Homo sapiens: one gene and its partners. The protein of the gene in region 2 purifies or fractionates together with the protein of the main gene of each other region. This does not show direct contact. Each region holds a gene or a part of one and is shown on either strand. Other genes may lie near its edges. The genes, in order: NOP14, SOX6, TAF4 and NFIA.

Region 1 (3,898 bases), on a different chromosome or scaffold from region 2:
GAGAGGCCTGCTGGCCACAGACTTCCTGGGGCCTACTAGGCACACATGGGGCTGATGAGGCGCTCAGGCCACATCCGGGAACAGACTGAAGTCCCTGCCCCTGTCGGGGAGACAGGCAGTGCACAGCACCCAGAGGAGCAAATGGACCAGACAGAACACGAGAAAGGAAAGTGGAGGGGCAGGAGGGAGACAGGAGAGTCAGTCGGGGGTGACGGTGGAGGGCGGGAGAGGCCTGAGGGGCAGACGTCAGCAAAGGCCTGTAGGACGCAGGAGTCAATTCACTCGCCACGGAGAAGGGCAATCCAGGCCGAGGGTGTGGCTACACGGGGAGGGGTGGAGAGTGGGTACAGTGGGGCAGAGGTGCCGGGCCAAGCGAGAGGGGAAGGCGTGGGTCAGGCCCCGCCCCACACTTCCCCAAAGCCGAGATGCCCACCCCTTCCTTGACTCCACCTGTGCCCAGCCTGTTCCGTCACAGCCCTTCACACGTGGGACTGCAGCTATCTACAGGTGGCTCTCCCGGAGGCAGGGAGCATGTGGGCGGCCGCGCCCCTCTGGCGCCCAGCACCGAGCCTGACAGACAGGAGCCTTGGGAGGCAGGTGGTGGCAGAATGGGAGCACTGAACCGGAAGAGTGGGCCAGACCCCTCTTGGAAGGGACTCTGCTGGTGGTGTGAATGATGCCACAGCACCTGCTCCTCAGGTCAGTCCCCTGGACATGCAGGCGCTTAGCACTGCACGGTGAGCTGGAAATAGAGGACAGGGGTCTGAGCCTTGAGGTCCAACCTCTGGTCAGGCTGGGAGAGGCGTCCACAGACATGGAAGAGCTCAGGAAGAGGCTGTGCAGCTCCTCACCCCCCAGAGGGAAGCAGCAAGTGCTGAGGAAGCATCCAGGAGCAGGGCTGGCATCAGGGGAAGGGGGAGGAGCACAGGGGCTGGGGTGAGGGCCCAGGAGGGCAGCCAGTGTGCAGACTGCTCCTCATCCCAACACTGCTCTTGCCGCCCTCGCTCCTGAATTCAGAGCGTTAAGAGAAGCGACACAGCAGCGCGGCCTGTGTGAGCTGCACGAGAACTTTCACACTGCCTTGTCGTCACGTGAGAAAAAGTAAAAAGTTAAGATTGATTTTAACAATAGACCTTATCTAACCCCAAATACCAAAATATTATGATTTTAACACATAATACAAAAAATTAAGATATTTTAAGTATTTCTGACACTAAGTCTTCGCCACTTGGGCATATGTCACAGGTAGGGTACGTCTCAGTTCAGACTCTGGCCCCTGGCAACCACGCTGGACAGCACAGGTCACCGGTAGCACTGCTTTTCCCCATGTGGCGCGTGCACACGCTCACACAGAGGGACAGACAGTGCGGCGGGTGGCAGGTTGTGTGTTTCCTCTACTTTCGCATATTCTAAACTTTCTACAATGAGTATGAACTACTTAAAAAAATTCTAAAGTATAACATATTTGTAGGAACCTCCCTCAAATCAACTCACCTTGGCTTGCTTTGTTTGGAGTTGCTATGTAAAGAATCCCAAGAAGAAAATTAATAAGCTCAGGTATAAACCTCTGGGACAAAGCCACATACTCCAGGAACAGGCAGCACACGAACAGGCCCTTCACCACGTCCTGGAGGGACAGGATGGGGCACTGGAAAGGAACATATGGGGGGTTACTGTCCTGGGACGATGTCATGCCATGCTAGGCCGACCACCGGGCTTCCCTGATGAACCACGCACCCCACTGAGCTTCACAAGTACAGAGGGAACCCCCGCACCTTATAGCAGTGTCGAGAGCATCAAATGAGATGAAAACAAGATAAAGAGCTTTAGTGATTTTTTTTTCCCGAGACGGAGTTTCACTCTTACCACCCAGGCTGGAGTGCAATGGCACAATCTCGGCTCACTGCAACCTCCACCTCCCGGGTTCAAGTGATTTTCCTGCCTCAGTCTCCCGAGTAGCTGGGATTACAGGCATGTGGCACCACACCCAGCTAATTTTTGTATTTTTAGTAGAGACGGGGTTTCGCCATGTTGGCCACACTGGTCTTGAACTCCCGACCTCAGGTGATCCGCCCGCCTCAGCCTCCGAAAGTGCTGGGATTACAGGCGTGAGCCACCGCGCCTGGCCAGAGCTATACTGATTATAAAGTTCCTTCCACCCATACAGAGCGTACGATTACTGCACTAAGCATGTACCAATCACATGCCTAATAAAGAAAAAGGAACAGCTTGAACTTTTTAAGCCAAAAAGGGAACAAAAGCCCTTATCATCACACTGGATAACTTCACCACTAACTTGAAAGGTTGTTTTCTGGGGTAGCACCATCTGTAACCTTGAGGTGCCAAACCAGGCCCTCCCACTCCCACCCACATCTGGGGCTGCTCGAGCCGGGGCTCTTTTAGATGGGCCCTCTTTGGCCTAACCGCAGTGCTCGGTCTCTGCAGCCCTTAAACAGCCACACTCATGTTCCACAAGGCCCCGAGGGGCTGTGGCTCCGGCCACCCGTGGTGCAGCAGGCCGACCCCTGCCGCATGTGGAGAGAACGCACCTTGGTGAGCAGCTGACTGAGGCACACGAGGGCAGGGGTCACCACTGGGTGCCAGAAGTCGGAAGTTGGAAATAGCAGCCCAGTGATTTTCAAATAAATGAGCTGGAAAGAAAGTGTTACCACAGGTTAAAGAAGGTAAATGAAGTCCATCCATATGCCCTCCCCGCAAACACTCCGGAGCCAAGAACAGGATCTGGCGAGGAGAGGGTGCATCTCCTTGGCCCAGAGCTCTGGCCTCAGTGTCACAGAACAGGCGTCCAACCACCGTGGGTCAACCAGCTAAACGTGCAGTGAGGACACTGAGGCCCATGAAGACTTCAAAGCAGTCAACAATGGTTATAGACACGGGCTCAGATCATGTTTTGGGGAGTTGATTAAAAATCACTAACCTAAGTCCTACATTTTTAAGCTTCTGCTAACTATTGTGAATCCATTTCAACACAAACACCAGGCAACAGAATAAAGAGCGTATCTCAGCAAGTATTTCCTTAAAGTTACTAAAGCTGAAAATACAGCATGAGGCTGTTATAAAATTGTTAAAAATCTCAGCGTACAAATGTCTCCCAACCTTTGAATAACATAGAAACCGAGACCAATTTAAACCAGCCCACAGGCTTGGGCCCTTAAGGACAATACCGTGGTTCTATTTGCCTTCCAATGTTTTTGTCACTGGACCAAATACAGCACCATTCACGTGGAATCAAACCAGAATCTCCCTGCACGACCCACACGTTAGTCCATGGCTAGTGGAGGAGTGCCCTCCCCTCCCAGGCTCGCTGCCGTGCACTCTCACTCCAGATCACCCTCACTGCCGTGCACTCTCACTCCAGATCACCCTCACTGCCGTGCACTCTCACTCCAGATCACCCTCACTGCCGTGCACTCTCACTCCAGATCACCCTCACTGCCGTGCACTCTCACTCCAGATCACCCTCACTGCCGTGCACTCTCACTCCAGATCACCCTCACTGCCGTGCACTCTCACTCCAGATCACCCTCGCTGCCGTGCACTCACTCCAGATCACCCTCACTGCCGTGCACTCTCCAGATCACCCTCACTGCCGTGCACTCTCCAGATCACCCTCACTGCCGTGCACTCTCACTCCAGATCACCCTCACTGCCGTGCACTCTCACTCCAGATCACCCTCGCTGCCGTGCAGCTCACTCCACATCACCCTGGAAGCACAGGGTACAGCCAAGAGCATCGTACCCGTCGTCCACCTTCTGTGATGCCAAACAGAACTTCTGTGGCAGGGGCAGTGCCTAGACTGAACTCTGCTTACCACATCCAACCCTGGCAATGCCGCCCGGCCTTTGGTCTCAATCATTTCTTCCATCTCATGCATCG
Region 2 (6,334 bases):
TAAAAAGCATTTTTTCCTTCCTTTATAGATCAATTTCAAAGTCAAAATTCAAACACTGCAGATTTCACAAACAGGAATAGCTGGCAGGTATTGGGCTTTACAAATAATGAATGTGCACATCAAAACAACATTTGTGGATGTTTGTAAAAGTATATACATGAGTTGATATGAACAGAGATATTTAAGAACCCTTCCTCCCAGTCTAAGTAAAGAGTAAAAGCTGGCCCTGATAGAGCCCACCATTGCTACATGACTTCCAAATTACAGGAATATTTCTGGAGTGTAATCTAGCTTTGCCAATTACAAAGTAACTACATATTTATGCTGGCAAAGCCCCATTGTTTGCTGACCCTTCAGACCCTTCAAAGTGTATAAATAAAGACAAGGAAGTTTGTTTCATTAGGAGATAAGCCTATACGTCACATATCTCTGTAGCTGATACTGCAGGAAGGAACAGAAATAATAATAATCTGTTCACTTTACCTATTGAATGTTCTAATCCAGGGTCTTTACAGGAGGACAATACTTAAAAAAGCATGGCTAATCTATGCTAATGTAATTGTATTTTATAGGTGTCTTAAATAGGATTGATTCGACCTCTTTAAAATTAAGATTAAAATGCAAATGTTCAAATCACTTATAGTACAAGGCACTAAAATAATTATTGTAATATAACATAGAATATATACTTGGCACACAGTATTATTTTTCTAGAATAATAATATTTACTTGAATTTAAAGCTTTTCATATGCCAGGCAATGTTCTAAGCACTTTACAAACAGTAAGTTACTCAGGCTTCAAGAAGAGTCCTGCATATGTCATTGGTATTGTCATTCTCATTCTACATATGAAGAAACTGGTTAGAGAGAGATTAAATGTTTCCCAAGGGCAAGGGGAGAGTTCAGAGGAATAAAGATTGCCATGTATTAGTTCCTACAGCCAAGAAGGTGCAGATCTAGTATTTGAGCCAGACTAGTCTGACTCCAGAATTGATGCTCTTAACCACAATGCTATACCGCCTCTGTGTGTGTAATGTCGTGTCCTTACCAATGTCCTTTGGTAAAAGGGACATATGTTTCACATTCACATAAGCCTGGTTTACATCTCAGCTCGGCCATTTACTAGCTGTGTGGCCCTACACAAATTATTTAACATCTCTGAATATTGCATTTTTCAATTTAATAGTGAGAATGATATTCCCTATCTTGTAAATTTGTTGTATTTGCAATAATCTGTATAATCCACTCAGCAGAGTACACAGCACACAGTAAGTATTCAATAATCTATCTTTATCATTGCTAAAAAAGTAGCCCCAAATTTAATATTTTATAGTAGTTTTACATCTGTATCATGGGGGATTGGTTCCAGGACCCCCACAGATAACAAAATCTGAGGATGCTCAAGTCCCTTTTATAAAGTGGTATAGTATTTGCATATAACCTACACACATCCCCTATATACTTTAAACAATCTCATTATTTATAATAGCTAATACAATATAAATGTTATGTAAACACTTGTTATGCTGAATTGTTTAGGAAATAAACGCAAGAAAAAAAAAGTCTGTAGATGTTCCATACAGATGCAACCACTGTAGACCTAACTACATAGTGTACTTTAGCAATAATGTAACATTTTCTCGAATTTTTTTAAAAAATATTTTTGATCCACAATTGGTTGAATCCACACAGATACAGAGGGCTGAATGTACCTGCATAATTCTCTATGAGTTCATAGGTAAATTACCAAATAAGTTTCAAATAAATGGAAGTATATTCGGTCACAGTTCTTTGGGAAGACGTCATTGTAGCTACATGTACCCTAATGAATATTCCCTCTACATTAATAGTAGAGGGAATATTCTGGACACCACACTCAGAATTGGTAAGGGCCTATTTGAAACCAGCTATGTGTCCAACACTTTATTAAATTAGTATAGTAAATGAGGCATTATTTCTGTACACATGAGTTTCAGAGAATTCTGTAGTTGGAGAAGCCAGATACATACAAACAAATATACAAAGCCAGATACATACATGAATAGATTAGCATATAATAGTGTGTTATACCCACACATACACACACACATTTATTATCTTGAATAATCCAGATAATAATCTTATCCAGATTATTACAACATTCTGATACTTACTCTGCGAACTGAAGAGGTTAAAACCAAGGCAAGGGCTAACATTGCTCCCTTCCATATTATTGATAAATTCATTTCATAATAGCTAAGTAATAAAAAAAACTAACTCATCAGCCACAGTTGTGTAGTCAGTAAAATGCATGAAAATGTTGAGCAGTATATGCACTTTTATTGGCTTGAAAGTTATGCATGTCTTTTCAAAATCAGCTATAAAAATTGATCTGAACCCATTCCATCAAAACGTCAATAGAAATATTTGAATTTTTGTTTGTTTTTTGCTCAACTCTTGTAATAACCTCATATGTAATAAAGATCAATTTCCAAAGAAAAACTTCAGGAAATTAATAATCTATCAACTACAACTACTTAAAAGAGAATACAAATCCTTAAGCAGAAATAACACCTGGCTCTACATAGCAAGTATTATCAAAGCTGGGCAGAGGAAAATGCTCAGCATTGAGATGAAAGAATAAGACATTCTGATCATTGCCTGCACTTCAGTAGCCCTATTCTGCAGTCTAAAATGATCCTTCCATAAAGGACTGTTCTACACTATTGAGAACAGGATACTTAGTCTCTAAATTTCAAAGTTCTTTTTATGTACCATATACCACAAGCAGAGACTTCATTTTCTCCAAGTGCTAAGAGCTCTTGCTCAGATGGCATAGCCACACTCATGACTGCCAGCATAGGGCTATGAGGCATATTTTGAGACAAAGTAGTAAAGACAGTTCCTCAGTCATTTGGCATGATGGGGGCCAATACCTGAATTTGAACCTTTGCTCTTTATCACCTTTCTGTAGCCATAGAAACTCTCTAAAACTCAACTTCTTTATCTTATTTAGAGAATTATGTGACTTATATATCTAAAATCCTAGTATACACTAGATAGTCAATAAATAATAGATGTTATTAAATTGTTTTAGTTTTTTATTTTTACATGCATTGGTACATGTTGTGGTATTTTGATCTAGAGCTGTTTTAATGTACCCTTTAGTAAAGGGAACTAAATTCAATAGTATTACTGCAACTCATATTTTCAAATAAGTATTACACCAAGGTATTAAAACAGCACCTTTAGTAGCCTTCCAGACTGGCGGAACAGCCCCACTATGTATCACTACATACACAGGGAACATGACTGAGGGAGGGCAGGAATCACAAGAGGTCCCAAACTTAAACTTTGGATTGTTCAAAAGAGATTATACACAATCTTAGAGGTGTACTAACGGGATTAAAAGAGAATGTTTATCACATAATCTTAAAGTGGACTATGAATTAGTATTTTTCATAAATCCTCTAATTATCAGCTGAATAGCCCAATTATACCACATTGCCCTTTTTAGCGTTAAACGCATTACCTTTAAAAATGCAAACATTTATAATACAGAGGAATTTGATAATCCTATTTTGTCATGTCTTCATTTATTAACATACTGGGATCTTTTATAATAAAGTGGCTTAAGCTTCTCTCTACCTCTAAAAGGTTCTGCCATGGTATAAAGAAATTCACTGATCATCTGGTGTGATATAAAATATGGTTTTCTGTGATAGGAAATACATATTAAATAGTAATGATAATGCTAGAGTTCACCTTTATTGATATCGTATTAAGCACTATATAAAGTACTTTTAAAAGCGTTGCCTCATTGGATCTTCTCAACAATCATACAAGATAGTTTCCACTATTCATTTCATTTTACACATGAGAAAACAAAAGTTAGAGAAGTTTAATAACTTGCCCAGGTAGGTGGCACAGTCAGTATGTGAACCCCAGAAGTCAAACTCCAAAGCCCACGCTCCTCCCGAAAACACTGCAGTGTATTGCACAGATTCATGACCCAGACTACGTTCATTGGCTTTGTTTTCTTACTCTATTTACTATTCCTTTTAAACACATGCTCTGAAAACAACTTTTTGTTCCACAGGGTTACCTCTTGAGTGCCCTTAAAAGTGAATAGCTCTTGGCTTCTCCTTTAAGGTACCTCTTTTTCTACCTTCAAGTGAAGCTCTCTTAGTTTCCTGGCACAGCACAGCTCCTCAATTCTCCTCCAACTTCACAGCAAATGCAACTTCCCTCTTGCTTACTCTGCTTCTCTCTCTCAAGCTCTTTCCCAAGTGTTTCCCTACTCTGAGTCCAGCTGCTTCAGGTCTGTGCCTCAAATGGCCCTCTGGATTTGCCACCCTGCTGTGCTTCTAGGTCTGGGTATGCTGGAATCTACAGTCATCTGCATCCCCACTTATCCTGACTACTGTGGTTATGAGGGGCCTCTTTTGAATGCAGACAGCCAGTCAGCCAAGTTGAAATTTATACCAGAAATCTATTACCTAATTTTTAAACAAAATGACATGAAATCAGACTTGAAGATATCAAAAGCATGTCTAGTTTCTGATTTAAGCAAGAAAATACACATTGTTACTGCTCCCACCACAGAATAATTTACTGCAACAGGAGTTCTGGATCTTATGCCAAAAATGAGGTCCTCTAACCAATGTCGAGGCCAATTATCTTGTGGTAGATCCCACAACAAAAGCAGACTATTGTGATTAGAGTCAGAAGCACCACCCAGAGAAGCTGGAAAGCTTATGGGGATTTCTTAAGGTTAGTTTTTATTTTTCCTCCCTGTGTATCTGCTTAAATAAACTACCAGAAACTCTGTGTGTGGCCACTGAGCATCTTAAATTGGCTTGGGAGACAATGACAGGGGTGATCAGCTGGGAGTGAACTGTTCCAGGTTTGGCTTGATTTGAGCAAAAGCCATGGTGCAAGGCAGTGCCCCTATGACACAGCAAAGATTCTCATGGCCAAGCCCCTTCAGTATGCCACAACCTCCTCTTTCCCTAATCTCCTTCCCAAACATACTGCCAGTAGCCATCCTATAGTTACTTACCGCAAAAGTAAAGCCCAGGTGGCTAAATTCAGGAATACTTACCCCACAGTAAAGAACTGCCTCATCTCCTGTCTCCGAGACCTCATCAGTTGCTTATACTCCCCAATCCGAAGCTTTTTGCCATCAACAATGCAGGTGCGTTTCGGTCGGGGTTTGTATTTATAGTTTGGGTACTTCTCTAAGTGGATCTTGCTTAGCCGGGCCTGCTCTTCATAATAAGGTTGCTTCTCCTGGTTGGACATTGATTTCCAGCGAGATCCTAGAAATAAAAATAGCCTTAAGTACCCAAGTGGTCAAGGCAACATATTCTAGGCAAACACAACTAGATATACCTTCCCATCACTTCACTCATCTGTGCGCTGGGTGGCTCCAATTCCCACATACCACTGGCTGTCCCAACTATACTTTTAGTCTATAACACAAAGAACAATTTTGCGTATGATACTTTCTTGTGTTATTTATCTCAATAGTTTAAGACTGATGCTACTATAGTATTTTAAAATATATCTTTGCTGCTTAAAGATCATTGCCTACACCAAGGTCTTTCCCCATCCACCTGCCTACCCTCTCAACAGGGATAAAAGGCTAAACCTCCTAAGCATACTTTTGAGCATGACAGGATTCTCAGGAAAAGCTTTGTTTGTCCTAGAAATTCAAACATCTCCCAAACTCCAAGTATCTTTAGTGAAACTATCCTTTGACAAGATGTCAGCAGATGTTGAAATCATTCCATATATAAAAAACTACTGTGCACAAGTCTGCCATGGCCTAGGTAATTAAAAAACCTAAGCTCTACCTAAGAAGTTATAGCTTTAGAACCGGAAGATACCATTGGAATTATATATACCATTTTCAAGTACTATAAACGCTCATTCAAAGCTGTACCAATAAAAGTACAAAAATTTTAATACGGTTTATACAGGAAGAAGGATAAGTATTCACTTCTCTAATATTGTTTATAAAGAATTATCTAAACACTTGATGAAGAGGGGATGTGTTTTTTTACATGTATCAAATTGCATTTTTGTGTCTCGCTGGTGAATAAAGCGGTAACAGCTGTGCAGACTGGATGTTAGCGATTCTTCAGTGGAGATTTTTCATACATAAACAAATGGAAAAGTTGTACAAATATTCTCTGCAGCCAGCAATATCCTAGTCTGCTTTAATAGCACATGCATCCCTGCTCTTTCCTGATTGTTGTTCAAAAGTTGTGTAGAAGGCCTAAGCAGATAGGCTTCTCTGTGTTCTGCTGGTTTCCAGCAGCTTAAAGCCCCAATTAACGAAGAATTCTTG
Region 3 (6,334 bases), on a different chromosome or scaffold from region 2:
CAGCAAGACCTCAGGAAGGACGGACACAGGCCTACACACCAGGCCACAGACAATGGGGCTCGGGGGGCCAACCTCAGCAAGACCTCAGGAAGGACGGACACAGGTCTACACACCAGGCCACAGACAATGGGGCTCGGGGGCCAACCTCAGCAAGACCTCAGGAAGGACGGACACAGGTCTACACACCAGGCCACAGACAATGGGGCTCGGGGGGCCAACCTCAGCAAGACCTCAGGAAGGACGGACACAGGCCTACACACCAGGCCACAGACAATGGGGCTCGGGGGCCAACCTCAGCAAGACCTCAGGAAGGACGGACACAGGTCTACACACCAGGCCACAGACAATGGGGCTCGGGGGCCAACCTCAGCAAGACCTCAGGAAGGACGGACACAGGTCTACACACCAGGCCACAGACAATGGGGCTCGGGGGGCCAACCTCAGCAAGACCTCAGGAAGGACGGACACAGGCCTACACACCAGGCCACAGACAATGGGGCTCGGGGGCCAACCTCAGCAAGACCTCAGGAAGGACGGACACAGGTCTACACACCAGGCCACAGACAATGGGGCTCGGGGGGCCAACCTCAGCAAGACCTCAGGAAGGACGGACACAGGTCTACACACCAGGCCACAGACAATGGGGCTCGGGGGGCCAACCTCAGCAAGACCTCAGGAAGGACGGACACAGGTCTACACACCAGGCCACAGACAATGGGGCTCGGGGGCCAACCTCAGCAAGACCTCAGGAAGGACGGACACAGGTCTACACACCAGGCCACAGACAATGGGGCTCGGGGGCCAACCTCAGCAAGACCTCAGGAAGGACGGACACAGGTCTACACACCAGGCCACAGACAATGGGGCTCGGGGGGCCAACCTCAGCAAGACCTCAGGAAGGACGGACACAGGCCTACACACCAGGCCACAGACAATGGGGCTCGGGGGGCCAACCTCAGCAAGACCTCAGGAAGGACGGACACAGGCCTACACACCAGGCCACAGACAATGGGGCTCGGGGGCCAACCTCAGCAAGACCTCAGGAAGGACGGACACAGGTCTACACACCAGGCCACAGACAATGGGGCTCGGGGGCCAACCTCAGCAAGACCTCAGGAAGGACGGACACAGGTCTACACACCAGGCCACAGACAATGGGGCTCGGGGGCCAACCTCAGCAAGACCTCAGGAAGGACGGACACAGGTCTACACACCAGGCCACAGACAATGGGGCTCGGGGGGCCAACCTCTCCAGTCCCCAAACACAGTCCCCAACAGACAACTTCTCCTGTCCCCACATGCGGCTCCCAACAAACAATTTCTCCTGCCCTCACACGCGGTTCCCAACGACAACTTCTGCTCCACAACATGACACCCACGGTGGGAGAAGCTGGGGGCACTTCACTACATCATCCTGCACACTGCAGCATGGCCTGCTCCAGGCAGAAGGCAGGCCTGGAGAAGAGCCTGGGACCACCGCGGACTGACCAACAGCGGACACCAGGTACTTTCTCAAATGGGAGAGGGGCCTCATGGTGGACAACATGTATCTCTTTGTTTTTCGAAAGCTGTACATCTTTGGTGCAAATGTTCATTTGAGATATGTAAAAATCAAAAGTTTTCACTCAAAACTTTCATGGTCCAACCATGGAAATATTAAGCACCCCATTTTCGAACATAACTTGACAGCACTTATTCTACTTCATTATTCCACGCAAGAATTGGAAAGAACAGCTGTGTACGTGTTTGCAGCTGACACCACAATGCCATAGCAACCGCAGGCCCACCTGGAAGCAGAAGCGTCCAGGAAGCCCAGGTGCACAGCACTCGGCACAGAAGGGCCTGCAGCCAAAAGCCCCCTTTATTTAACTGCTTTATTGCTATCAAAGGCCTGATTAAGTAAACGCCCCCATCACGCTGCCTGAGCCGGGCACCACAGGTGAACACCCTAAACAGCAACTGTTTCCTGGATGATCGAGGGCTTGGAGGTTCCTACTGAGCACCATGAAGAAGAAAAGCAAAGCACTTCGGGAACCCTGCAAATTACCCCAAATCTCAGGCAAGCTTCTCCAGAGCCCTGTTACACCTCTGCTTCAAGATCCTCAAACACAGCTGCTAATTATGCTTTGATCAACTCACTTACAACCAACAATTTATAAAAGCTTTCTTCAAATTTATCCCTTAAGTGGAAGAAAACTCACATTATACAGTAGAAAAGGCTTTGGAGGTAGAACAGGAACTGTCTCCATTCCACTCTGATTTCGGGATGCGGACACGCCCACCAGTCTGTTCTGCTGAGCCCGGTCTGTGCTGCTCTGACCAGACGCCGCCTCCCGGCCTCCCTGTGCTGATGTCTAAGGGGCAACTTCCACAGCACACCGGGGAGCCCGGGGGCAGTCCTGGAAGCCAGGGTGGCTCTGCTCTCTGCCCTGGGAGAAGGCCAACTTCCCAGGCGCCCGGGGCCTGCCTCAGGTCCATTTGCCACAGAAGCAAGCGGGACACCCTCTCCTACAAAGCTTCTCACAGGCCCTAAGAACCAGGGCAACCGTAACGAACTTCAAACGTCATCCTCTGTTCAAACTCATAGACCTCTGCTGTGAATGCAGTGCTCGGGCACAGTAAGCAGTGAGGAGAGAGGCTCCTAAGAGCGTCACAGGACCCCGACTCCTGGCTGCCACTAAGCCATGAGGGTCACCAGCTCTGAGACACCAAAGGCAGGTGAGGTCCATCCCAACCTGTCACCAAGATGACTCTGTTCATCCCGAAGGCGATGGTGACGACCCCAGCCGCGGGGCAGGGGGCAGGGAGGAAGGGAAGACCCAGAGCGGCGCCCTTGCCCTATGCTAGGCAGAGCTGTCCAGGGCTGTCTTTACACAGCTCCCCAAAAGTTCTTTTTCTTTGTTCTTTTCAAATGTCACTCCTACCTGAGTATGTCAAAAGAAACACCAGATTAAGGCCTCTAGCCTAAAGTGAGCCCTCCACCCAGGTCCAGGCCTCCAAAGGCCACTGCAACCCTCCCCTATGTTGGCAACCACCGCCCCAGGGTGACCCACCTCAGACCTCGGTAACTTCCCCATTGACAGAACCAGTCAGCTGCCACACCAAACACCTCAGTCACTGAGAAAACATCCAGTCTGGATTAATGTGTGAAAATCAGTGAAAAATGAGGGGAACTGGGAGAGTTTGGAATAGTGAGCGCCACCTGACAGCTATGTTATCTGGCCCAACCTGACAGAATTCACATTCTTCACCAAAAGGGCAACCCCACTTTACAGCTGGGTAAGCCAAGGCTCCGAGGAACAACATATTCCTCCCAGGTCAAACGGCAACAGGGCCCTCAAGTCACAAAATCTAAACTTTTAGGAATGTCCCTTGTGCCAGAGCACTGGCTGCCACCACTGGCCACCAGAACTCACAGCTCCTGCAACCTCAGGGGTGGCCGTCTGCATGCCGCCACCCAGCATGGGCCTGGACTCGCCAAATCCAACCCGTCCCAACAGCGCGATTAAGGGCTAGTGGACATTTTCCCCCTTTCCCCACAGATGGGAACCAATGCTCCAGACAGCACCCACAGACACACATTCACCTGGGAGTACTCATCCTAAAACATGCAGCAAGCACACGCCCCCTAGGCCAAGGGATCAAGGCCCATGGTGAGAAAGTGCTTTTCTGTCCTGGAATGGGAATCTACACTTGGGCCAAATCTTAGAGCAAAAGGAGAGTAAATTCTGCATGAAAGCACAATAGACCAAGATACACTGAAGAAAATGTGAATTTGCCAGGCCAAAAGATAACCTTTAGAAATGAGCTTCTTTACCTTACACCGATCTGAAAAGATCTCTCAACAATTTACCAACATGCTAATGTGGGTGTCAAATCACCTTTTTCTTCTTTCAGCTGTAATCACAACCTGACTATGACGTTATGACTATCCTAAGCTGTACATAACTAGTGCTTTTCCGTGATCTTGGGACAACTGTGTCATCTGCAACAATCTCACTAAAGACTGAGTTTTCTCATTTTTCCTCAGTGAATAAAATCTAAACTCTGGCACCTCAAACCAGCAAATTACAATTACATTAACATAACTGTCTTTACAACACTGTCCTGACAAAGAATATCATGACAGCTACCTAAACCAAATTCAACATACCCGGTGTGCACTATGGGGCTGAAACACTCGGGCCTAAGGCTTAGCCTTAAAGACTTCAGGGTGAAACCTCTGTCCCCTCCCTTCTCCCACCCAAGACCTCCACGGAGGGAAGGCTGGGAAGGGCAGGCCCTTTCACACCCCATCCAATTGCCACCCGTCTGCTACTCCACTTGACACCCACATGCAGCTTTGAGAACCCTGCCCACCCCTAATACTCCCGGCTCCTCCTCAGTTTGCAAGACTGAGTTGTAATGAGAATGAGTTATTAACCAAGCAAGAGTTATTTTTATAAGTTACTTCCATCTTTGTTCTAAACATTTTTATTACGAAATATTTCAATGAAAACGGAACCAACTAGAACAATTTAATATTCTCTGATCAATCGATTACAGGAAGTAACCAGAGTATTTGCAATTTGCCATTCTGATTTACAGAATTAAGTTGTACTGTTCAAAAGAAGGTACTCTGGTTTGGGATACTGGTAGTTTTATTGATACTTTTTTTTTTTGCTTTGGTTATTATTGAAACAAATAACATAATCAAAATTCCTCATCAGTAGATCAACTGCAGGAGGCCATGAAGAGATGGGGTAAATCTCTCACTTTTTTAGATAGTAGCATTCGGCTCCTTGAAAGCACCGCTCTCAGCACTGCCACCCAAACGTCTGTGTGAGCTGTTCCTCTGTCCTCACACACAGGAATCACGCACAGTCAACACTCCTACAGTTGTTTTTCAAGTTGTCTCTTCATCAAACACACCCGACCCTAAAACTGATCTTAAAACAGAAGATGGAAGTGAGTCCCAGGATCACTCATGATAAACACAGCAGAGATGCCCTCTTCCAACCACGTATTCCTTCACCTCCTCCCAGAAGAAAGAGACAGATGAGGCTTTACCTCTGCAGTGGCTCAGAGCAAGAGGACCTGGCCAGCCCCACAAGACAGAGTCCAATACCTACCCAAAGGGGTGCAACAGGCACCTGGCCTGCGCTGAGACACGTGGGACCTCTGGAAAAACATTTTTATAAATAAAGCATTGTGACAGTTTACATAATAGATCACAGCCATCAAACATCTTTTTACAACGTTACTAAAGATCAGCCACGTTTCCTACTAAAAGGTCAACATACACATAACAGCAAAACCAAGCCTCTGGCAAAACACCCCTACAAACGCTTCAGTACCCCAAAAGCTTGTCGTAAAGGGCGTCTCAGCAACCCCGGGAAGTAGCTTCACAGCTCTCTTCCTCCCTGGAGCACTGCAGCCTAGCAGCCGCCCAGACAGGCTTTCCCCACCCCTGCCCTGTCCAGAGTCTGACCACCAGCCCCGAACCTCACATACTTGGACAAGAAATCCTTTCACTTCTGAAGATTCTGCAACCCTGTCAAAGTGACCAATAGCTCCATTCAGAGAGGGGACGCAGGAGGGACCCACGCTCTCCTTGCAGTTCCTACTACTGCTGCCACCGCGCTGCTACAACTGCACGGCACGCGTCACCACAGGCCGGGGAGGAGCTCCCCTGCCCAGCACCCACCACGGCGGCTGGGGAGGGACGGGGAGCCCCAGACAAAAGCAGCAATGCTGGCCAGGCAATCTTTCCTGTCAAACTTGAGGGGCCCTGAGGAGTCGCAGAGACAGCAGACTAGACAGGAGCGTGAGAACTGCCAGGCGGAAGTGGCGTCGGAGCCCCAGGCATCCGCAGCATAGCCAGTATCGCCCCGAGACCCCTGCACGGAGCGAGAACATCTGCTGCCACCGCCCTCCCACTGCCCTCCCGAGGGGGCAGCAACCAGAGTAGCTAGGCGCTCCTTCCTTTAGGCACCAACGCAGCTCTGGAAGAGACAGTGACACACACGGTGCTGAAACCCTACTCCACAGCGTGGCTCTCAGCAAGGCTGCGCGCCGGGAGGACTCTCGCAGGATGCGCCTGACATCTCTCCCTGCCTGGTGGCAGCAGAGGAGCCCAAGCCTTCCATCCAGAGTTCCCGAGCCTCAAGGAGGGGGCGTCGCGCCCCCGTCCTCGCCTGGAGACTGAAGAGGCTCGAGCCCAGGGTCACCAAGGGGCAGAAAGGCTAAGTGGGGACACAGGCCACACGCCTAACTGCAGAACTGAGCAGGGGACAGCTGCTGCCACTCACAGCCCCAGGTACTGCCCTCAGCTCTGCAGACCCCATCGCCTGGC
Region 4 (6,334 bases), on a different chromosome or scaffold from region 2:
GAACTACCATCTTTTGCACTACATTCCAGATAAAGGATTTTGTTACTACATTCTAGGTAAAGGATATTGTTACTATCCTCAAGTTACACAGAAAACACTCAAGGATGTAAAATCAATATTTATCTCAAATTTGTTGACTGCTACTGCTATCTTTTTTGAAGAATTAAAAGATAAATTAAAATTTCTAAAAATATGCCATATATCAATAATTTACAATAGCTTGATCAGCCAAAAAATCCACCTTGAGCTTAAAGCTAGAGTTTGATAGGGTGATCCTTACTCTCCTAATTTAAATATCACTGTATATTAGTTTTACAATATACAGTGTATATTGTGTATATTGTGTATACAATATACAGTGTATATTCTTTTTCCAAACACACTTTATTAATAATTACAAATCACAGGAAGTAACTGCACAACTTTCTACTAGGGTGTTTATTAAGTTACTGAAAAAGTTTAATTACAAAAACGTATAGTCCTAGATTTGAATGTAAACACACATACATGTAGCTGCTAAAAGAATATATTGAATATATTTTGGATATGCAATGTTGCCTCAAACTAATGTAGGAAGTTACCTAAAAATTAAAATAATTTTCATAATTAATTTGGCATAAAATTATAAACTGTAACAATCTAATGCGATTTATTTATAAAAATTATAATATTCTATATGCACTGAAAACCTTATCTGTATAATTACACTGTATTTAAAATACTAGCATTTCAAAAAAGAAATCATTCCCATTGCTCAAACAGCACTCTGTGCAGCCTGGATGTGCACGCACATGCACACGAAGCACACACACGCCCCTACACAGACACTCCTAATCTTACACCTGCTCTGAAGCAGTAGGAAGTGAATTCTCAATCTGTCAACATGACCATCTGGTCTATCTGCATATCACGGCTTTCTCTATTACTATATGAAGGAATGGCAATCACGAAGCCAAAATAAAACTAAAATGCACCTGAATGGGAGTAGCTCTCTTTTGGCTGAAATGGAATAATATGAGGTACAGCAGAACAAAACTAGCAAGAATCTAAATAATTTGAAATGAGCATTCATGTCAGCATAATTAAGTGAACAATATGGTACAGGTAATGTGGTAATCAGTAATACTGTTGAGTAGGTTTATAGGACAGGTATCAGGCTTCCGAGACACTGAAACAGCTCCTTCAGTGATTGAAAGGATCTTTGCTATTCCTGATGCAAGCAAAATTAAGTAAAGGTAATAATGGTAGCAGCATGGAAGCAATCAGTAACTACTGCACTAAAAGATTACCGTGCAAAAGTGTTCTCTTTCTACCTTAAAACTAACAAGTACTCATACTGCTGCCATTAGGACAACAGCAACTTGCTTTGTCACTGGCTAATTAACAATTAAAGCAATTACCTGACAAATTGTGGTCACTTATTAATCTTTCAAACTGAATTTTAAGACTGCTAAAAATACTTCTAATGTTAGAAAATTCCTCATCTGCAAAAAGTGAAGATGGCTCACTGTGATTTAGCTTTTAGGCCTAATGTCACTTGAAAATTAGCAAAGGCCTTAGTTGAATTAAACATAAATTAATTTGTTTAATTTTAGATTTTAAATGTCCCCACACAGCTGCCTCCAAGCTTTTATTCTACCCCATGGCAGGTAATAATATCAAATATAAATTGTGAAACTGTCATTCTATGGCCTAAAAATAGCAACCTGCCTCTATCCAAGAAATGAGTCCTTAAAAAGTATAACCTTTCACAAAATCTAACTAATTTGACTGAGAATCTTTCTAGAATCTGATTACATTACCAGAAGTTTATACAGAAGTGGTTAAAAAAAAAAAAACAACAACTCTCCAGAAACTTCTCGGTTGAGTGCCTACTAATGAACAAAGGTTAACTTTATCTAAAAGGTCAAATGCCTGGTGGCTAAGGTTATGACCTTAACAACTTAAATTGTGACCTTGCCACGTGCCGGGTATATTGTAGATTCTGATACAGATCATCTGGTAAAGACTGGTCATAAATTAGCTTTACTGTTACACACCCACAAAGAAAACCATTTGCCACAATACCATAGTATCCCCAAGTTGTCATATGATACATGGGAAGGACAACTCAAATTGAGACCAAATTAAGGGCATAAAATGGTTTTGTTCTTTTAACAAGATGAAATTCTCAGGCTTATGAAATCACTCCAATTTCATTACACTTGTTACTGCTTATCAGCCACAAAATTCACAGTTCTAATGCCACTGGATTTAGAGGGAAAAAACTGGAATGTAGTTTATGTATTATATTTTAGCATGTCAATAAGTCTTAGAATAAATCACCTCCGCTTTAAAAAAAAAAAGATTGATTCTGCATTTGCTTCTAGTATTCTCACGTATGTTCTGAGATTTCAACTTCCTACCAAAGAAAGGTGGACACATAAAGCAAGAATTATTACACACAAATTTCAGAAGGAAAAGAAGATCTAATTTCTATGACCATCTAGGGGGAAAAAAAGGCATTCTGGAAAGGAAAAAAATATAACAATTTAAAAGAAAGAGCGAGAAAAAACGCATTATAGGTGAAAAGGCCACAATGGTTTTGGCATGTATCTTGAAGCACGTTTCAGAGTCTCTGCCTCCTGCCAATACTGGCAAGTTCTCAAAACTTTTAAGGAGGTAAAAACATTGTTTAGTGTTTACAAATCTTCAGTATTATAACAGATGCTTGTCAAATCAGTTGTATGTAAGTTGACCGATCTACCTCATATTTGTATTGGCAGCTTCCCTTCCACAAATAACAGGTCTCTGAATCTCTTAAATCAAATTTGAAATATTTTCAGACAAAAGACCCTTAATATTTTCTTTTACAGTCTTCCTGTTGCGCGCACAGAGAAGCAGCCATTACTGCGGTCCCGTGAAAACCAATGGCCAAACATTTGGCTGGCATTCAGGCATAACAAGGGATTCTGGGATACATCAGGAAAACCAAACCGAAGAGTAGTCTGATCTATGCTGCTGTCAATAAATCTTTCATAAGCAATAAGGATGCTAACTCTCCTAAGTAACCTTCTAAATGTCATTTTACCAACATAACCCCTTCAGGCATTGCAACAACCAACAACTGTGTTAGTTCAAGGATTGGGAGCAATAGCACAGTAACAAACCAACGACGAAAAAGAAGGCACGTAATGAGAACAGCGAAAAGATTGCATTTCTTTAAATAACAGAGAAATGTTTAAGACGAAAACTTAGAATGGACACTGCTTACACCGACAAAAACTTCACAGGTATTTCATTTTGATGTTATCTTATATGGAAGCACACATCATGATCTGCATCACCTGTTGGCACTTTCAAGTTTCGATGTTGGTCATCTATTCGGGATAATTTATAGGTTATATTTTTCTAAATATCTAAAAGGTAAAAACAAGATTTTAAAGAGTGCTTCTTGAAAGCACCTGTAACACCTATACTTTTTTTGCGTTTTGCTGTGCTTAACATATGCAGACACATTTTTTAAAAATTTTAACTTTACTTTTTCAGTAAACAAAACAAATGAACAACAACAGGGTTAAGAGTGGGTTAAAAAAGGGCTACTTATTCCTGCTTAGAGGTCACTTGAGAGGTGCTGACTTTTCATTCTTGCTACCCAGAATTGGCTAAAGCAAAAGGCAATTCTTATAATTAAGTATACATTTTTGAAAACCCAAATATTTGAAACACTTACAGCTCACATCCTCTAAAATACTCATCTATCCCCTGCCAACAGAATGCAAATGATGATGTGACATGCTTGCAAAGCTAATTTCTCCAGTTTCTTATGTAAGGGCAGATGGATAACAAAAGTTCTCTTTCTAAAACATATATTGAGAAAAATAATAGAGAACAGGCTATCAGCTGGCTTCTTTAAAAACTCACTAACATTTTTAGAATTAAAAATGTTTTGAAGAAAAGTGCAGTGTTTTTACAGGTAACATCTCTCCTTTGTAAAAAAAAAAAAAAAAAAAGAAAAAAAAACGTTAAATATTTGAACCCCAAAACAACCTACTGGTAGGATTCCACAACCCTCTTTCTTCCATCTGGCTCAAGTAACTGCCATGAAGGTAATCTAGCAAGACCGATATGTACATATATAAAGTCAACAAGTTACACAAGACCTGAGCGTTCACATAGCACAATGAGCCTTTTGTCTAAAACAAGACGAAAGGAACAAAGTAAAAATGCATTATTTTATCCAGTCCTCAATAGTTTTATCCTGCATGCTATTCTAAACACTGAAACATGCACAGGTAAGACATGCCTTGAAAAAACAGAAAAAAAATTTAAGATTTTACAATCAAAGCAACTCACTACATCAATTATCAATAGCAATTTTTCAATGTGTTCATGCAATATACAGGTTGGTTATTTTTAATATTAACCTCTCCATCAATTACTGAAAGAGCTGGTTTGTTTCCCTTAGCTATCTGAGACAACACTAAGAATTCCTAAATACAAAGCTACTAAGTCTGCGTATTAATGTGATTATTTTTCCTTCCTAAATGATCAGCAATTTGATAGTAATCTACCTCCAACTTCTTAATTGGCAAGGGGTTCAAGAGGCCTCAGTAGGTTAAAAACACTCCCAGCAGAAAACCAACTAAAAATATTGCCTCAATACCAAAATAAATGCTTTTAAACTAGATCATTTGTCAGTTAAAATATACTCTTTATTAAAAGGGTTTTCACGAGGCTTCTCTCATCCCCTCATCAAAAAATGTGATTTAAACATATCACATATCTGATTACCAACGCCTCTGAAAACACTACTTACCAAAAGAGCTGAACTTAGTGAGAATTCGCTCAAAGCTATGCTTTTTCACCTGAATGAAGGTGGCACCTCTCTCAATCTTTGAAACCACACTGGCTTCATGTACGTGGCCTGCAACTTGGGGAGCTCAGGAAGAATCCGGCATAACGCGGAGGCCATCAGGAAAGAAACACACACAAGAAAGTGGGAGGAATTCTCACCATCGCACTTACCTGCTGCATGCACAAAGTATGCCAAATATAAATCGAGTTCCTTAACAGAAACCCCTATGTGATGGGGTTGGACACAGAGCCCTGGATTAGAGCATTGTGGGGACTTTACAAGGCGCTCGCCATCAGTACTTTCCAGCGGAATACCTTTAAACAAAATCACCATAACAAGGTCCAACCTCCAGACTTTATCTGCCTGGCGGAGGCAGTCAATTCTTCGCATCTTGCCTTTCTGGTCTGGGTTGGAAAGAACACAACATGGAGGTTTTTTCCCTGTAACTGTAAGAACAAAATCCTCTCGATATTCGGGTCGGATATCTTTCCGCAACTTTGCCAGAAGTCGAGATGCCCACTTCTGCTTGACCTCTGGTTTTTCACTTAGCAATTCATCCTTCACGGCTCTCTCTTCTTCTTTTGACATACGCTTTTCATGTTTTTTGAAGTATTTTCGTTTTCGGGCCTGCAGGTTGAACCATGTGTAGGCAAAGGCTCGGACGTGGGGCAGAAGTGCTTCGATGAAAGGATGAAATTCATCCTAGGAAAATGAACAAAAAGAAAAATATAAGTAGAATGAAAACAAAAGAAAACAACTTTTCTTCAGCGGGTCACCTTAAGAAAGAAATTCCTCATTTCACTTGAAATTTGATTAGAGCATTCTGTTACCAAAATCATACACAGGATCCTATGGGAAGTCTGGGAAGGTGGGAGAGAAAACTATCAGTATCATTTCTTATGATCGGAAATAAAAAAACTGCTGAAAATTAAAAAACTGTTTTAATATGTTCACCAGGGTACACCAGCTACTACTGTCGGGCCTAGCTCCCCATCCTTTAGATAGTAAGTGAAGTTTATCTAAATGCTTATAACAATGTATAATCTTAACCCTATTTCAAGGAAGGCATATCTAATTTTGTCCCAGCCTTGACCTCACCACTTGTAGTACAGCCAGGGCCCAGCCGCCAGATTGGCAAATCCTAAACATTTAGATGCCAGTCAATGTTTATGGAAGTCTAGGAGCAAAAAATCATCTCTACAATCAATGAAAACAAAGGCTTTCCCCCTAAAAATATTGCATGTAGATTCTGATATGTTTCTTACTCATTTTGCTAGTGTCTAAATTCCCCTTTTAAATATTATAACTACATATAATTTTTTTAGTCAAAAACTAGGACAAATTTGGGAGGTTCATATACAAAAGAAGGATTGAATTTGATATTTATTAGGCTAAAATAAAAGATCTATGCCCAAGACATAATTGCTAATACTATGGGAATGAAACAAAAAGGGGGAAGAAAGAGGAAAAAAAAACAAAGAAAAGCATACATGAATA

The links.
Region 1: the proteins of SOX6 (region 2) and NOP14 purify together in Homo sapiens (affinity purification with mass spectrometry; one large-scale study listed by BioGRID and IntAct). This does not show direct contact.
Region 3: the proteins of SOX6 (region 2) and TAF4 purify together in Homo sapiens (affinity purification with mass spectrometry, with the first as the bait; one study listed by BioGRID). This does not show direct contact.
Region 4: the proteins of SOX6 (region 2) and NFIA purify together in Homo sapiens (co-immunoprecipitation; one large-scale study listed by IntAct). This does not show direct contact.

Annotation. Positions count from the first base shown.
Region 1 is NC_000004.12:2,942,579-2,946,476, forward strand, and holds part of NOP14 (nucleolar protein 14), read right to left. Parts: coding exon 3,834-3,898; intron 2,652-3,833; coding exon 2,550-2,651; intron 1,649-2,549; coding exon 1,495-1,648; intron 1-1,494. UniProt on the Homo sapiens protein: Involved in nucleolar processing of pre-18S ribosomal RNA. Has a role in the nuclear export of 40S pre-ribosomal subunit to the cytoplasm.
Region 2 is NC_000011.10:15,981,121-15,987,454, forward strand, and holds part of SOX6 (transcription factor SOX-6), read right to left. Parts: intron 5,301-6,334; coding exon 5,084-5,300; intron 1-5,083. UniProt on the Homo sapiens protein: Transcription factor that plays a key role in several developmental processes, including neurogenesis, chondrocytes differentiation and cartilage formation.
Region 3 is NC_000020.11:62,057,752-62,064,085, forward strand, and holds part of TAF4 (transcription initiation factor TFIID subunit 4), read right to left. Parts: intron 1-6,334. UniProt on the Homo sapiens protein: The TFIID basal transcription factor complex plays a major role in the initiation of RNA polymerase II (Pol II)-dependent transcription.
Region 4 is NC_000001.11:61,087,354-61,093,687, reverse strand, and holds part of NFIA (nuclear factor 1 A-type), read right to left. Parts: intron 5,540-6,334; coding exon 5,008-5,539; intron 1-5,007.